Linked DNA regions of Homo sapiens: all the other regions are reported to be linked to region 4. The links are microRNA targets in miRTarBase. Many come from high-throughput screens and were not tested one by one. Region 4 holds a microRNA gene; each other region holds the end of a gene's coding sequence.
Evidence for each region. The annotated mature microRNA hsa-miR-34a-5p reads UGGCAGUGUCUUAGCUGGUUGU and lies in region 4 at 1,156-1,177, shown strand. An mRNA with a match to its seed (bases 2 to 7 or 8) in the 3' UTR can be bound and repressed. Matches are read on the target gene's strand: a 7mer-m8 pairs with bases 2 to 8, a 7mer-A1 pairs with bases 2 to 7 and ends in A, and an 8mer does both.

Region 1: miRTarBase lists BMP3 as a target of hsa-miR-34a-5p. Seed matches in the 3' UTR shown: 8mer at 3,388-3,395 and 7mer-A1 at 444-450.
Region 2: miRTarBase lists FOSL1 as a target of hsa-miR-34a-5p. Seed matches in the 3' UTR shown: 8mer at 3,258-3,265 and 8mer at 3,157-3,164.
Region 3: the mRNA of DLL1 is a reported target of hsa-miR-34a-5p. Seed matches in the 3' UTR shown: 7mer-m8 at 3,072-3,078, 7mer-m8 at 2,976-2,982 and 7mer-m8 at 2,913-2,919.

The regions. Positions count from the first base shown.
Region 1 is chr4:81,052,953-81,057,017 of GRCh38, reverse strand. BMP3 (bone morphogenetic protein 3) reads right to left here. Exons shown (of 3, transcript NM_001201.5): 3 at 1-3,673. The coding sequence ends at 3,482. Among named protein-coding and RNA genes, the nearest start is that of BMP3, 24 kb to the right of the region's middle.
Region 2 is chr11:65,889,293-65,893,357 of GRCh38, forward strand. It overlaps FOSL1 (FOS like 1, AP-1 transcription factor subunit), which reads right to left. Exons shown (of 4, transcript NM_005438.5): 4 at 2,757-4,004. The coding sequence ends at 3,594. CCDC85B (coiled-coil domain containing 85B) reads left to right here and starts at 1,381. Exons shown (of 1, transcript NM_006848.3): 1 at 1,381-2,343. The coding sequence starts at 1,492. The coding sequence ends at 2,100. RefSeq lists a silencer at 1,172-1,651 and enhancers at 2,792-2,841, 2,882-3,041.
Region 3 is chr6:170,279,600-170,283,664 of GRCh38, forward strand. DLL1 (delta like canonical Notch ligand 1) reads right to left here. Exons shown (of 11, transcript NM_005618.4): 9 at 3,632-4,065; 10 at 3,389-3,506; 11 at 2,607-3,280. The coding sequence ends at 3,275. Among named protein-coding and RNA genes, the nearest start is that of LINC01624, 9.2 kb to the left of the region's middle. RefSeq lists an enhancer at 2,545-3,744.
Region 4 is chr1:9,148,847-9,152,911 of GRCh38, reverse strand. MIR34A (microRNA 34a) reads left to right here and starts at 1,135; the gene lies at 1,135-1,244. It overlaps MIR34AHG (MIR34A host gene), which reads left to right. Exons shown (of 2, transcript NR_132742.1): 2 at 1,077-4,065. RefSeq lists a silencer at 1,090-1,326.

The DNA of each region.
Region 1 (4,065 bases), not on the chromosome of region 4:
TAATCTTACACATCAGGTGTGCATAGCTATGCCTAACCCAACTTTGATTCAATAAGAAGTCAATGCCCAGACATTAGTTACTTGTTAGCACAGAGAAAAGTGAAAGCAGAAAGACTAAACTGAAAAACTAAACTGAATGAATTATACAAATATTTTTAATAAATCAGACTCTTAGCAGTATTACTCACATTTGATTGCCTATGAAAATATTAAATGGGCAATAAGAGTTTTATTCAGAAATATTAAGGTAAAAAATCTTAACATATAAATGATCATCAGTTAATATACAGCAAAGGGAATGTAAAAATTTATCTGGAATGTTATAGTCCTGAGATCTGAGGAATCCAGTCTTCCAGTTTAAGTTCTACAATCCCAAATCCTGTAAATTGTATATTATTTACACAGGTTACAACAAAGTATTTTTAAAATATTCTAATTGACTTTGGCAGTCCCTTAATTTGAATTCAAGAGAACAGTTATTGAGAAAAAGAATTCTTTTTATCAAATAAAAAAATTAGCCAGGCATGGTGGCGGACACCTGTAATCCCAGCTACTCAGGAGGCTGAGGCAGGAGAACTGCTTGAACCTGGGAGGTGGAGGTTGCAGTGGGCCGAGATCACGCCACTGCACTCCAGCCTGGGCGACAAGAGTGAAACTCCATTTAAAAAAAAAAAGAAAAAGAATTATTTTTTTCAGTAACTGACTGTGTGTGTGTGTGTGTGCACACTGCATGGGGTAGAGAGATTACTTGTGGGGGAAGAGAGAGAGAGAGTATTATGCATGATTTAGCAAATGGAGTTTATAATTGTAGCTTCTCTTTTCATGAATGCCAATTTAATAATTTAATATCAGGAGATTTCTAAAGCTTCTGTGTAGGAATTATACAGAAACTAGTACCTAACAATTTGTAAAACAGGCACTTACTAAATTTTCTAACTACTCTTAGTAAATCTGTATTAATTAAAATATTAATACATTTACTTCAATCTCTACTACTGAAAGATAATCTTGCTTTATTCTTTGGGAATAAAACTCTTCCAATTTAAACCATAATACATCCTCAATTCATTAGTAAAATGATAGTTACAAAGCACCCAGAAAAACTGCTGGTTAAAACCTATTTCCATTGCTAAGAGATTACCCAAGTTCTTTCATTGTGTTGTAATTTTATATCAATTGCTACTTAAAATATAATCTTAACTAGTTAGTACCTGTAAATTTTATTATGTAGTGGGTTTTTGGCCATTGTGGGGTGCAATCTGTAATAACTAGGCATTGATTCAAATTAAGAAAGGTAATAAACAGGCATTTGGATATAAGAAGGCTAAGAAGTGATACTGGGAATTGCCAGAAGTTTTGGTTGATACAGCTCTAGAAAAAAACCTAAATTTAGAATTTCACCAAATCTACCAATGAAAAAGTTTTCTTTATTGAAAAACAGTACGATCAGGATGGTGGCCACACTCTGGCCCCCTTCTATCATATACTTTTATTTTCAAATGTTTGAGAACATGTATTAAAAAGTAATTTTATCCTCCATCTCACTTTGAATCTTTAATTTTATGCTACTGTAAGAACTAGAAGAAAGCATGGTAACTCAGGCACCAGAACTTCACTCATTTTTTTTAGAACTGGTGTGTCTCACTCACAGAATTAACACACACCCACACCAACATTTGTGTACCCCAAGGTGTCAAAGAGCTTCTTTTCATGAGTTATTCTTTTAATGGGTTTGCAATAAAATACCACTTAAACCAAAGCGAATGCCATACTAATTTACAAACAGCGAAGTATAGGATGTTCTTTCATTTAGTTTATTAAAAGAGGGACTTACAGTGTTTTTATATCTATCACTATCATTCCTTCAAGGAAGACGGGTGTGAAATAGCTGGAATTATAAACTTAACCCTTCCAGCTCATGGCCAGCCTCTTCATTTTACCAGTGAGGACACTAAAGACACACAGGTAACACAGTGCCTTTCACAAAATAGATGCTCAAAACATATTTATTAAATGACTGAACCACCATAATTAGCTACAGGCAGAGACAGAACAAACTCCACGTCTTCTGATACTGCACAGCCTCCAAAATGGCTGAGATATTTCTAAGTATCAGATAAGACGGAACTAAAATGAGGATTAACCACAGATTAACACCAACAATGATCTACGGCCTGAAAGCATTTCCATCACACAAATAAATATAGTGAGAAGAAGGATATTGAAATAATTTTGAAGACTAAAGTTATAAGAGGACACATATATGTATGTGACACATAGAAATGGAAAGCAAAGACAAACAAGTGTCTATATTTGATTCCCATACCTGACGAATAATGTTTTGTAAGCTTTGCTAACTTGTAGATTTCGTGACTGAGCCAAAAGCCCTGATCTATGTGAAAAAGTGCCTGACTTAGATGTGACTGAAGAATGATATTCAATATTTGGTTATGGTTAAATTGGTCATTTAAGAAGATCTTCAATATTCTACCAGTTTTTGGGCCTCAACATCTACCAATAACTTCATAGGAAGTAAAGGCATATCAGGAGAATTAAAGAGTTAATGGCTTTAGGAAGGATTTTTAAATTCAATTTAGAATAAATAAAAGCATTTGTGAAAAAGAAGTACAAAAGAGGAATTACACTTGTGTTTTCAAAAACTAGGTTTCTGATTCCTTTTTCTGGTAGGAAATGAAATGAAAACAACTGTATTTGCAATTAAATAGCTGGGTCAAGTGGTAACTCTCTGTATATGCTCTTGAATTATTCTATCATATTTGGCAAAGTTCTTATAACTGAATGGTGTTTGCCAAAATACAAAATTAAAAAAAATAAAGAATCCTGTGTAAACTGAATTATAAAACCATATTAAGCAAACCATCCTACAGAGGGCACAGGCACCTGGCGCATGTACGCACATACATACACACTAACGCTCAGCATAAACTTTCCATTACACTTAGACAATGACTTGTGGAGGAAAAACAAGGATAAACAAGAGTCTCAAGAACTTAAGAAAAACATCAGAGTTGATTATTTAGCACTTTCTCAGGATTCTAAGGCAATAAGCCTAATTCAAAACGCGAAATTGTTCTCTATTTCCCATTAGTCATTAAATGAGATAAATGACAAGCTATTGCTGCTTCTCCATTCTGTTTTCAAAGAACATTACAAAAATAAACCAGTGTGTTCTCTAACAGTTCTAAAAACAGTTTGATAAGTTGTTGTGTTTGATTACAAAAAGAGAAATAGATGTCCATATTTACTAAAAATCTTGCTTTAAGTTACATTCAGAAACAAATACAGTTCTTTTCCTTGGTGGCAATCTTCAGTCTATTTGCTCATTCCCCTCTGACTATAGAAATAATCTTTTGAAACAAAATGCATTGGCAGTGCAAAAAAAAAAAAAAAAAAAACAGGAAGAAGTCCATAAAAATAAACTAATGATTGAATTAAGCATTCAAATGAGTTCTTTGCCAGGTTATCTGCAAGCGCAAGACTCTACTGTCATGTTAGGGTATACTTTAAGCACTACATTCTTATTTTCATCAAAGAATAAAATACTGAGTGAGGACATCTTTTCTGGTACACAGCAAGGCTCAGGAATCCCAGGAACGACCCCCACAGCTCTCACTATACTCTGGATGGTAGCATGATTTGATGGCTTCAAAGACTAGAGAAAGAAATGAAAGAAGAACACATATGTTAGGTGGAACTGCGTTTCCACTCCTCAGTCCTCATTACACAAAATGCTTATCTAATGAATTTGTTTCAACAATTTAATAAAACCTCTGGCATCATTATACATTAAGCCCAATCGCCTATCCCACCACTACCAAAATGGTTATTATTTATTAAGTGCCTGCTGCATTCCAGGCATATTATATGTAGTATCTCTAATTCTCACAACAAAGCTAACATTTCTTACATTTTACAAAGGCTCAAAAAGCTTAAACGACTTATCTAAGTTCAAATAGCTTGTAAATGGTAGAGGATTTAAACCAAGTTATCTCAGCAAGAATCATTTAATTACAAACAACTTAGCCCCCAAACATGGAATTAATA
Region 2 (4,065 bases), not on the chromosome of region 4:
CCCCACTGATGCTGCCCCAGCCGTCTTTCTGCTTAGCTCTCCTTGCTCTTGCTCTTTGACACCGTTACTAATCTCCCTGTTTATGTCCCCTCCCCGCAGGGTCCGGCCCACACAGATCAGCCCAATCTTTTTAAATACATTTTTTTTTTCGAGACAGCGTCTCGCTCTGTCGCCCAGGCTGGAGTGCAGTGGCGCGATCTCGGCTCACTGCAACCTCCGCCTCCCGGGTTCAAGCAGTTCTCTGCCTCAGCCTCCCGAGTAGCTGAGATTACAGGCTCCTCCCACCACGCCCGGCTAATTTTTGTATTTTTAGTAGAAACGGGGTTTCACCATCTTGGCCAGTTAAAGGCATATTTTAAAATGTTACTCCCTTGCTTAACATCCTTACAAATGTTACTCTCTTGCTTAACATCCTTAGTGGCCTTTGGAAATGCTCCAACCTGGTACTGGAAGTTCTTAAGAATCTGGCTTTTACCTACCTTTGAAGCCTCGCTCTCTCTCTCTTAGCATTTTCTCGACACATCTGCTTTTCAAAAACCAAGCTATCCTCATTGTTCCTAAAGCAGCTAGGCTCTTTCGGGCACCAGTGTCTTTCACTATGTTATTCTCTCTCCCTGAAATAGCTCTTTACTTGGCAAAGTCCTATGGATCTACCAGAGCCTCTTGGATAGCATCTCTTTTGGGAACCCTCTTAAGGACCCTCAGACCATACTCCTCCCGGATTTATTTCTTGCTTAACACAGCTTGACTTCCCGGACAGACTGCGACCTCCTTGAGGATGGAATCGGTATTTTGGTTAAATTTATTTCTGCATGGGCCTTGCACATAAAAAACGTTTATTGAACAAACGAATCCTGTATGTTCCTCCCCCCAGGCAGGAAACGCTCCCTGGGAGGGAGGGTAGTCTATTGGTGAGCTAGGACGTTTGGACTCAGGGTTCCGAGGAACCAGGAGCGATCCTTAGTGGGCCGAGACTTCCGAATTTGATCAAAGGTAAAGAGGGACTGGAGAGCGGTCCATCTGACTTCTGTGGGGGATGGGCAGGAGTCAGGGGCGGACGCCTGAATCTTGTTTCTCAGAAGAGCCGAGAGGCCTAGGCTCAAGCTTGGGGCGATCCGGTACTTGGAGGTTCGAAGCTCCTAGTTTCGGGTTGAGACCGATGTGGAGGGCGATGACGCGCGGGTTCCTTGACATCGAGGATCAGTAACACCCGGAGTGGGTGGGGAACGAGGGGGGCGGCCCCTGAGCTCAGGCCCCGCCCCTTTCCGGGGACGTTTCACCGGATTGGCTGTCCTTCCATAACGACATGCGGCCCCGCCCCGGCGCGCGCCCCGCCGCGTGCCCAGCCCGGGTAGCTGCTGCAGCCTACGCTGCCTCGGCCACTGCCTGCCGCGTGCGGAGCCGGAGCCCGAGCCTGAGTGGCGCCGGGCCCGACGTGGGGCTCCTGGGCCGCGGCGGCGGGCGGGCGATGCTCCAGAGGCCTGACCAGCCATGGAGGCCGAGGCAGGCGGCCTGGAGGAGCTGACGGACGAGGAGATGGCGGCGCTAGGCAAGGAAGAGCTAGTGCGGCGCCTGCGGCGGGAGGAGGCGGCGCGCCTGGCGGCACTGGTGCAGCGCGGCCGCCTCATGCAGGAGGTGAATCGGCAGCTGCAGGGCCACCTGGGCGAGATCCGCGAGCTCAAGCAGCTCAACCGGCGTCTGCAGGCAGAGAACCGTGAGCTGCGCGACCTCTGCTGCTTCCTGGACTCGGAGCGCCAGCGCGGGCGGCGCGCCGCACGCCAGTGGCAGCTCTTCGGGACCCAAGCATCCCGGGCCGTGCGCGAGGACCTGGGCGGCTGTTGGCAGAAGCTGGCCGAGCTGGAGGGCCGCCAGGAGGAGCTGCTGCGGGAGAACCTAGCGCTTAAGGAGCTCTGCCTGGCGCTGGGCGAAGAATGGGGCCCCCGCGGCGGCCCCAGCGGCGCCGGGGGATCAGGAGCCGGGCCAGCACCCGAGCTTGCCTTGCCCCCGTGCGGGCCCCGCGACCTAGGCGATGGAAGCTCCAGCACTGGCAGCGTGGGCAGTCCGGATCAGTTGCCCCTGGCCTGTTCCCCCGATGATTGAAGGCACTGCTTCCTCCACGCCGACGCCCGCCCGGATTGCTCCCCGAGCCCCGGGACCGCTGTGGACCTCGGGACCTGGACGCCGTCCTGGCTGCGCAGGAGGGGCCGCTGGCATGGACTAAGAAATCCTGACACCAAGAAGGGCCCCTCGCTCTTGCTGGCAGGGCAGCAGGGGGACTGAAGGCTGGAGCGGAGGGACTTGCTGGGGGTTGGATTGGGGGTAATAAACCCGGACGGAAGCGGAGCCCACGGCCTGGGCAGCGTCTGTTTGGTACTCGCCGGGGTTGGGGCGAGGGTGGGGTGCTGATACAGGGTACAATTCCCATCCAGAAGGACTGCAGAACTAATGATTCCCCCATTACTTCGAGCCTGGGGTGGGATGCGGGGCAGTGGTAAACCAGACTTCCCCCATCGGGCGCCGGGACCGGCCTTAATCCAGCCCCTGAAGTGGCTCCAGCTCCCTTCCCGGCTCCTTCCTGTCCAAGACAATGGGGCAGGAAGCAGGTGCTGGGGGCCTAGAACCACTCGGCCGCCTCCTCTGAGGCTGGAAGGGGGCATAACAGCGCCCCTCCGTGGCACACGCAGCAGCACTGTGGGCCCCCACGGGGAGAGGGGCGGTAAGCCTCTTCGCTTTTACCCCAGAGGACTGTCTCCCCTCAGTCCCGGAGATGAGGCCGAGCGGATGTAGCCCCACTTGTCAGATAAGACAAAGTCCAAAAATATCAAAGAATTTGTCCAAGGTCATGCAGTGAGTCTGTAGAGCTAAGGCTGGGACCTAGGGCTCCAAATACTCTCCCATTGGCCTCTGGGTCCAGTGAGGCACTCAGGCCACAGCTTCAAGCCTTTTATTCCATTTTGGTAGGTTTGTATAAAAATACTCTCTTTAGGAAAATAAATAGCAGCTGCCCTCGCTGTGGAGGCTTGGATTCCCTGGAGCTGAAGGCTTCTCAAAGCTGAGATCCGCAGATCAGCTCATCACAGAAGCCAAGGGCGCCTCCTGAGCTGTGCGGTTCAGGAGGGGGCGGCAGAATGGCCTGGTCCAATCACCTGCTGCTGCTGGCAGTGGGGCTGGTGAGTTAGTGTTCTAGGTGGGTAAAGTGGCACCTTCTGTCAGGAGATAGGGTTGGGTGGATCACAGGAAGAGGGTGATGGAGAGTGTGGCAGTGATCTGGAAGGGGTTAGGGCTCCAGAGGACCTCTAAGGATCTACAAAGTCTCTGGGCTGCCAGGATTCCTCTGGCACAAATGGGAAATATTTTGTCTCTGATTTAGTGCAAATTGTGCTAGAGAGGCCAGCTCAAGAGAAACAGTGGGCAGCTTTGGTGGCCCCAAGCTGGCTCTACTGTGAAGCACAATATGGTCAGTCTCATTAGAGGGATGGAGAAGAAGTTGCTGGAGTTGGATGTGGGATACTGTCCAGGCCAGCTGGACCGGTGGGGGAAGGGGAGGAGACATTGGCTAGGGTGGCATCTGCAGGGAGTAGGGCTCAGGCGCCTCACAAAGCGAGGAGGGTTGGAGAGCCAAGGGGGTCAGAGGATGGGTCTCCGCTGCTGCTGCTACTCTTGCGATGAGCTGAGGCACAAGGCTCAGGAGTGCTGGGGTAGGTGAAGACCAGGCTGGGGGTGAAAGGAGTTAGGGAGGGTGTGGTCATGAGTGTGGGGGTGTGCAGTGCCTCAGGTTCAAGCACAGGCCCTGGGGAAAGGGAGATACAAGGTACAGGGCGGCAGGGGGCTGGTGGGCTGCTGGTGCCACTGGTACTGCCTGTGTCCCCCTCCTTGGCTCCTTCCGGGATTTTGCAGATGGGTCGGTGGGCTTCCAGCACCAGCTCTAGGCGCTCCTTCTGCTTCTGCAGCTCCTCAATCTCTCGCTGCAGCCCAGATTTCTCATCTTCCAGTTTGTCAGTCTCCTGTAGAAGATCAGGAGAGGAGTCAGAAAGGTGAGGGCTGAATACCCCAGAGCCGCAGACG
Region 3 (4,065 bases), not on the chromosome of region 4:
ACAGACGTACTGTGTGCCTCCTGCGTGTGAGGCCTGGTGCTCATGGCGCGTGTCCTTGCATGCAAAATTCTACTCTTCATCTTGACGTTTCTAGACATTCAGCTGTTCCTCAGGAAACGATTTACCTTCCCTCTGCCTTTTCTGTAAAATGCATGGACTGAGGAATTACTAATGCATAACACTTTGTTTGCTGGATACCAAGTAGACGCACTCTTACCATATACAGGGCTGTATCTAGGCAGCCAGTTATTAGAATAAAAACAGAATACTATGTTCATCCGCTCAGATAATCCCTGTGTTTGGCTTCATGTTATGGTTCGAAACTCCTAGTGACATTGGTAAGAGTGAACACGAGAATGAAGCTTCTTTCATGATGAAATGTCCTGAGTGTGTGTCTGTGTGTTCTCAAATTATAGCTCACATGGATAGAGAACGTTTTCTTGCTTCAGCCTCAAGTGGGGATTGGGTTGCAGTGGTGAACCAGGGCCAACACAGCCCGCCCTCTTTGAGGTTGCAGTCTCCTGGGACACACGCCCACTAAACAAACAGCTACACGAATTAATCATGCCACAGGGCAAACTGCAAGAGCACCATCACGTGCGGCAGGTAACCCAGGCGGGTCATTTTCGTGGCGGAAGAAGGTCACACTGGAAGTCACCAGACAGATGGAAGATCCCACTCAAAGTCGCAGAGTGGGGGCGGATGGAGAACCAGGCTGCCAGGGCGCTGGCTGGAGCCGAGCGGTAACAGACCCGTGGGAGAATAACGAAACGAGGCTCCAAGACAGGCGGGAGCCGGATGGTGCATGACCTGAGAGGCCAAGTCAAGGATTTTGAACTCCACGCTAAGAGCAGCCGGAAGCCGTTCGCTGGCGCCAGCTGAGCACATGCGCAGAACCGTGCCCTGAAAGGCACCGTCCCCTGCAGACGGGAGGAGGTGCTCCCAGCACTGCTGCAGACGCTGCCGTTTCCCTTTCAAGGACTCAGCAGAGTGGGCAATCACCTAGGCGCGCCACCAGCGAGCCTGAGACTCTGCTACCAGCGTCCTTGACCGGACTCCCGCTCTCCACCCAGTTTAATTGGCTTGCTTTTGGCCTTGTAAGATTTCTCATCTGCGATGTGCGTATGCAACCACAGCAAGCCTCCCTCAGATGCATTCTGCTGTGGGTCACGTCACAGACACGGCGGTCCATACACACCCGGAAACTGTCGTGTTTGCGTGTGCGTGTATTCACTGTATGGTCCGGCTTAATGCTTTTGCTTATGGGAAGTTTCAAACGTGTACGAAAGAGGAAAGAACACGGAAGTGAGCGCCCCCATGGGCCACTCCCAGCTGCAGCGACCCCCAGCAGTGCTCGTGGGACTCCCCGTGCCACCGTGCCCGCGGCGGGGGGCTCCGAATCAGTCCCAGGCCTCGTATTGTTTCATCCATAAATATTTCAGAATTTTCTCTAAAAGATAAGGTCTCTTTTTAAACTGAACAGTAATAACACATCACATCTAAACTATTTAGCAGGTGCACTTTAAAATCATGTGGATATCCCAGTCAGCGCTTACATGTCTCCAGTGGGTTCATAAAATTTTTAAACTGTTTGAAACAGGAACCAGATCCAGACGCTGCGATGGATTGATATGTCCGTGTCTCTTTGTATCTATGGGTTCCCCCTCACCATTTTCTTGTTTTTTCCTTGCAATTTATTTGGCTACAGAGTTCCCTGGATTCGGCTGCGCAGATGCGTGGGGCGTCGAGGAAGGAGTTTTCAGTCCCGTGTTTCCGTAACTGGTAATGAGACTGAGAGCTGTCATCGGATTCAAGCTCAATGTTCTTAGCAAAACACTTCTCCTCTTTGCTGGTGTTGCTGGCCTGGCATTTAACGTGCCCTTAATGCAAGGAGGAAATGCAAGCGGAGTCGGGTCTGAGGGGAGTGAGCGCCAGTGCCTCCGCGCAGCTCCTGCTACATCGGTCGCCCTCTTTCCATCCTGGGAACCGCTCAGCGCTTTGAGGTACGCGCAAGTTAAAAATGCAATCACTACCATAAGGAACCCGGGCTTAGCGGGGGGCAAAGCGGCAAATGAGGGGTCAGCCCACAGGGAGCCCGTGCGGTCCTGCTGAGCCAGCAGGCGGGACGCGCTTAGAGACGGGGCTGCCCACCGACGGGAAGCGGAGGAGCAGCTTCCGTGACTCCCACGCCCCGTCTGGGGCCATGTTGGCGTCAAACGGCGACAAAATCATGACAGCTGTGACCCACTGGGTACAAAATAACTCACAAGTCTACACTGACATGAATGAATGAATGAATGAATGAATGAATGAATGAATGAGGAACGCTCATTCTTTCTGCGGAAAGAACTAATAAATGCATGGGGGGATGGAATTAGAAAATCGCGGCTGCTTCATGCGCGTGCCTGCTCTTACCAAGTCACCTCATGATGGCCAGCAAGCAGCTTCCTGAGGGAGGAGAGGAACGGGCTGCTTCTCATGGATCCAGGGAAACCAAAGCCTTGAAAAGAGAAACACCAAGGCCACCTCTGCCCTCAGCCTCGCGGGCCGCAGGTGAGTGAGCACACCTCCGCTCTAAGGCAAAGCCAAGTAACTACGCCTTCTGGTTGTCATTCATAAAATTTATTTTGGAAAAATATTTTAAAAAGGAATTTCTTCATTAACAAAACAGTAAAAAACTCAAATAACATTTGCACAATATTCCATAAATACATTTATATACAAAAAAATATAGTCACATAGACCCGAAGTGCCTTTGTACATATTTACCAAAATTTAAATTATAAAAAACGAACATCACAAAATACTCAAGCTTTACAGATATCATGAAAAATATTTTTACAAATCCAAAAAATAACACACATCTTTTCCATCTAGAAAAAGCACATCTTCGTATCAAAAAGGACAATAAAGGCAGTGTTTGTGTTTCTAATTCAAGAAAAGACTGGCTCATAAGAATCCAAAATATACACTCAGGCAGTGCATGCTTCTTATGCGTAATTCAGTTCACCCATTTAAATATATATTCTCTTAAGAGCAACTGTCCATAGTGCAACGGCGACGTCACGGAAGGCAGTGCCGCAGGCGGCCGGGCCGCGACAGGCTGTCGGCAGGCGTCGAGGACCTCAGGAGGAGAACCTGCTCGGTCTGAACTCGGTTTCTCAGCAGCAGTCCACGAGGCCTCCCTCCTCTTCAGCAGCATTCGTTGGGGCATATATCCTTGGAATTTTACTTATTTTAAGAGAAACGGGAGTCTTGCCATCTCACTTCCATTTTACACCTGGGGGGCCACAAGACAAATGGGAAGTTAGCCTGAGACCGATTCCCGTGCTCCAGCTTCAGGTGCTCCCATGCCGAGGAGGAGGGAGCGGCTGCTGCCTGCACTGACCTCAGTTGCTATGACGCACTCATCCTTCTCCTCGGATATGACGTACACCGACTGGTACTTGGTGTCTTTTGAAGTTGAACAGCCCGAGTCCGGCCTTTTTCTTTCAGATGCTTCTCCACTAAAAGGAAAATAGAGAAAATCCACAATGAATGCATGAGAACATTTGGGAAGAGAAACGGAGCAGTGGTTCCAGGAAGACACCCCCCAGGTACCCCCTCCTGATGCCCGGCCCGCAGCACGCACCCCCTGAGTGTGGTCGGGGTCCCCTTCTCCTCCCCTGAGGAGCCCTGGGGCTGGCACTTGGTGTCACGCTTGCTGTGCGCGTCCCTGACGGCGGTGTCGTCACCCTTGAGGTCCTGCACGAGGTTATAGTCCACCGCTGGGTAGCGGGCCTTGAAGCCATTCTTGTCGGCGCTGTGGTCCCCGTGGAAGTCCGCCTTCTTGTTGGTGTTCTTGATCTGCGTGGCCCCGATGATGCTGACTGAGATGTCCTTCTCACGCTGGCAGTTGGCCAGGTTGTTCATGGTCTCCGTCTCCCCCCGGCAGGGGTCGGCTGGGGGCCGGTGCTTCTGCAGCCTCAGCCGGACGCAGACCACCACAGCGGCACAGCCCAGCAGCAGCATGAGGACAAGGATGACCCCGGCGCACACGGCCACCCAGGGGAATGGCCCGCCCTG
Region 4 (4,065 bases):
AAAACAACAAGAAGTCAGTAGATCTTAAAGCACTAGATCTTAAACCCTGTGATGGGCAATTTCCTTGTCAATTTAGCGAGGCTGTGATACCCATGATTCAACCAAACGCTTGCCTGGGTGCTACTGTGAGGTGCGTTGTACATGTGGTCAGCACTGATGATCACTGGCTGTAAGTCAAAGGTTCTCCTCTGCGAGGTGGGTGGGCCTCATGCAATCGGTTGAAAGGCCTCAAGAGCAGAACCGAGGTTTCCCTGAAGAAGAAGAAATCCTGCCTGGGGACTGCAGTGTCAGCTCCTCCGGGGAGCTTCCGGCCTGCTGGCCTGCCCTCTGGATTTCAGACTTGCCTAGCCAGCCCCCACAATCACGTAAGCCGATTCCTTGAAATAAACTTAATCTATATCTCCTTCTGGTTCTGATTCTCTGGCAGAACTCTGATCCTCTCCCTAAACGGTGCCCGGGACGGGGGAGGAGTTGGCGCTACTTCATTGCTTCCCTTTCACGCAGACATGCTGACTTTTCAACCACTGTCCTTTTCGAATTTTTTCTCTTCCAGGGAAGTGCTGACTCTTTTTCTCCTTGTCAATTAGTCCTTTTGGAATCTGTTACTGGTCTCAGCCTTCTCCTCCATCCTCTCTCTTTCATTATTTTTATTTTCATTTTGTAGAGACAGTTGCTGAAGGTGGTGGTCTGGCTATGTTAACCAGGCTGGTTTTGAACTTCTCGCCTCAAGTGATCCTCCTGTCTTGGCCTCCAAAATTGCTGGGATTACAGGTGTGAGCCATCACCCAATTTTTATTTTTAGAGACGGGGTCTCACCCTGTCACCCAGACTGGCGCAATCACAGCTCCCTGCAGCCTCAACCCCTGGGCTCAAGCGATCCTCCTGCCCTGGCCTCTCCAGTAGCTAGGACTACAGGCACGCATGTCACCATGCCTGGCTAATTTTTAAAATTTTTTTGTAGAGATGGAGTCTTGCTAGTTGCCTGGGCTGGTCTTGAACTCCTGGCCTGAAGCGATCCTCCCACCTCGGCCTCCTGCATCCTTTCTTTCCTCCCCACATTTCCTTCTTATCAACAGGTGCTGGGGAGAGGCAGGACAGGCCTGTCCCCCGAGTCCCCTCCGGATGCCGTGGACCGGCCAGCTGTGAGTGTTTCTTTGGCAGTGTCTTAGCTGGTTGTTGTGAGCAATAGTAAGGAAGCAATCAGCAAGTATACTGCCCTAGAAGTGCTGCACGTTGTGGGGCCCAAGAGGGAAGATGAAGCGAGAGATGCCCAGACCAGTGGGAGACGCCAGGACTTCGGAAGCTCTTCTGCGCCACGGTGGGTGGTGAGGGCGGCTGGGAAAGTGAGCTCCAGGGCCCCAGGAGCAGCCTGCTCGTGGGTGCGGAAGGAAAAAGGCACAGGGGCTTGGTGTGGGCGGCTTTTGGCTGGGAGAAGTTTGCACGTAGGGAGAATAGTAGCCAGTGTTTGCAGAGCACTTACTATGCAGGAAGGCCTGTCCTAAGTATTGTAAGTGTATTACATCATGTACAAGTGTCTGTGATTAACCCCGTCTTGCAGAGAAGGAAACAAAAGTACAAACAGAAAATGTAACTAAGCATGCAATTAATAAAAAGGGACCAGGTTTTGAACGCGAGCAATCTGGCTCAAGAATCTGCGCCCAACCACCGGCTCCTGTTCTTAGAGATGAACGTGGAGTCCTGGAGACTGCTCAACATTGTGACTTGACTGTGAGCGTACGCGCTCCCTGTCCCCAGGAGACAGATTTCCAGTGCAATCATAGAAAGTGCCTGTGTGGGCTTCGGGAGATGTGTCTGCCTTGGGGAGAATTTTCCTTTTCAGCTAGAGCCAGGCCCAGGATGTTGACGTCAGTGAGACGCTGGTGACGTTCTCTGCTCCAGTGGCTGATGAGAAAAGTTCCTCCAAGCCAGCTCAGTTGAGAAGAATTAAGTTCTCTGGGTCCCACTGGCTTCACCTACAGATGCCAACTTTGAGGCCAGTGAACTGTGAGGCCAGCTGGGCTGATTGCCATGGCAACAGGAATTGGACCAAAGTCACCGGAGGATGGAGAGGGAAGACACAGTGGTGGCTTCCCCAGGTCTTGGACCACAAGGCACAGCCGTGGCCTCCAGGAACCCTGAGATAACCCGTTAGTGGGTCCTGCACTCCAACAGAGCTCATGCAATCAGCCTCTGGTCCTCACCCTCCTCCCATTGGTGTCGTTGTGCTCTCTAACATTGACATTGAGCAGTGAGTGCTCCAGATCTTGTTCCACTGATTTTTTCCACTGTTCTCCAGTCTAGCACTTTCTGAAATTCATCCAAGCCTAAGAGGTGACGCCAAACGTAAGTGTCTTACACCTCGGACCCCATGGACTAAGACAAGCCTCTGGGGTCCATGTGGCACCAAGGATGGGGCCTTCTAGTACCTTTCACACAGGCCAGGGACAGCACCTGCTGCGACCCCCACCCCCAGCCTCTGCTGCTTCTCCCGTTGCCCTTCCAGCCACTGCCCTGGGCACCTCCCCTGCTCCCGCCTCCCTGCCTGGGCCCATCTTTCTTTGCACCTCACCAATTGCGGGGCTTCCTAGTGCTGGAGGGGAAGGGAGCCTGCTTCCATTCTCACCACTCTGAAAGAAGACCCTGCAGAGAGGTTTTCTGGAATTTGGAGCCTAACCTTGGCCTTGACACAGTCCAGATGAGAAGGCCGTCCCCCAGTTAAGCCAGCCCTCCCTCCCTCTCAATGCTGGAGAGGAAACCAGGCAGCTGGTTGCTTCAGCAAACCCCCTCCCTATGGGAATTGTCCTTTTCTTCCTCAAATAGACTGGAGTGCAGAGGACTTGCTTCAGAGAGAGCCCCTTTGTAACGCACATTGCACGGGCCGTGCCCCATGCCCACTCTGCCACAAACTCCCCTCAGCTGCCCAGCCCCGTGGAGCCAGGCGTGGGCTGAAGTGGGGCCAATGAAATGCCTGGAATGCCAGCCGCAGTGACAGGCCAGCACTCAGATGCCTCTCGGGAGTTCTGACCGAAGCAGCACTGAGGACTGCTTCAGAGCAGAAGTCTACGCCATTTTCCCCAGTTCTAGGCAGAAGTAAAGAATGTCTCTACCTTCTCCCAACCAGCAATTGATTCAGAGTCCTGAGCTTTTAAATTAAAGGGACCCCTCTGTTGCTTTATGCAGTAGCCAGCTTATTCATTTGAGTTCAGGTGAAATCATTTTCAAGTAACCTCTTCCTATCCAGCTTTACTTTTAGTTATGCTGACATAAAAACAATAAAAATTGTCCTCCTCAGAGTTCACCTGTAAAAGTTCCTGGATAATTAGTAAGGAAACAGAAAGAGCAGATAGTTGTTGCTTCAGATAAAAGTGATGTCTGGGTTGGGCACGGTGGCGCATGCCTGTAATCCCAGCACTTGGGGAGGCCCAGGTGGATGGATCCCTTGAGCTCAGGAGTTTCAGACCAGCCTGGGCAACATCTCTACAAAAAATACAAAAATTAGCCAGGCATAGTGGCAGGACTGTAGTCCCAGCTACTCAGGAGGCTGAGGTCAGGGGATGGCTTGAGCCCAGGAGGCACAGATTGAAGTGAGCTGAGATTGCGCCACTGTATTCCAGCCTAGGTGACAGAGCCAGACCCTGTCTCAAATTAAAAAAAACTCTTTGTGGTCATTTAATTTACTTCTGCATTCTTTTTTTTTTTTTTTTGAAATGGGCAGTGGTACCATCTCAGCTCACTGCAACCTCTGCCTTGGGGGTTCAAGTGATTCTCCTGCCTCAGCCTCCCGAGTAGCTGGGATTACAGGCACCCGCCACCACGCCCAGCTAATTTTTGTATTTTTAGTAGAGACGGGGCTTTGCCATGTTGACCAGGCTGGACTCAAACTCCTGACCTCAGGTGATCCGCCCACCTCGGCCTCCCAAAGCACTGGGATTACAGGAATGAGCCACTGCACTCGGCCTACTTCTGCATTCCTTAGAGTACATCCTAGCTAGGATATATTCACTTGTCTTTAGAGCTAACAGCAGAAGAAAGGTACCTAGATGCTTATCTAGCTCTTTATCTTTC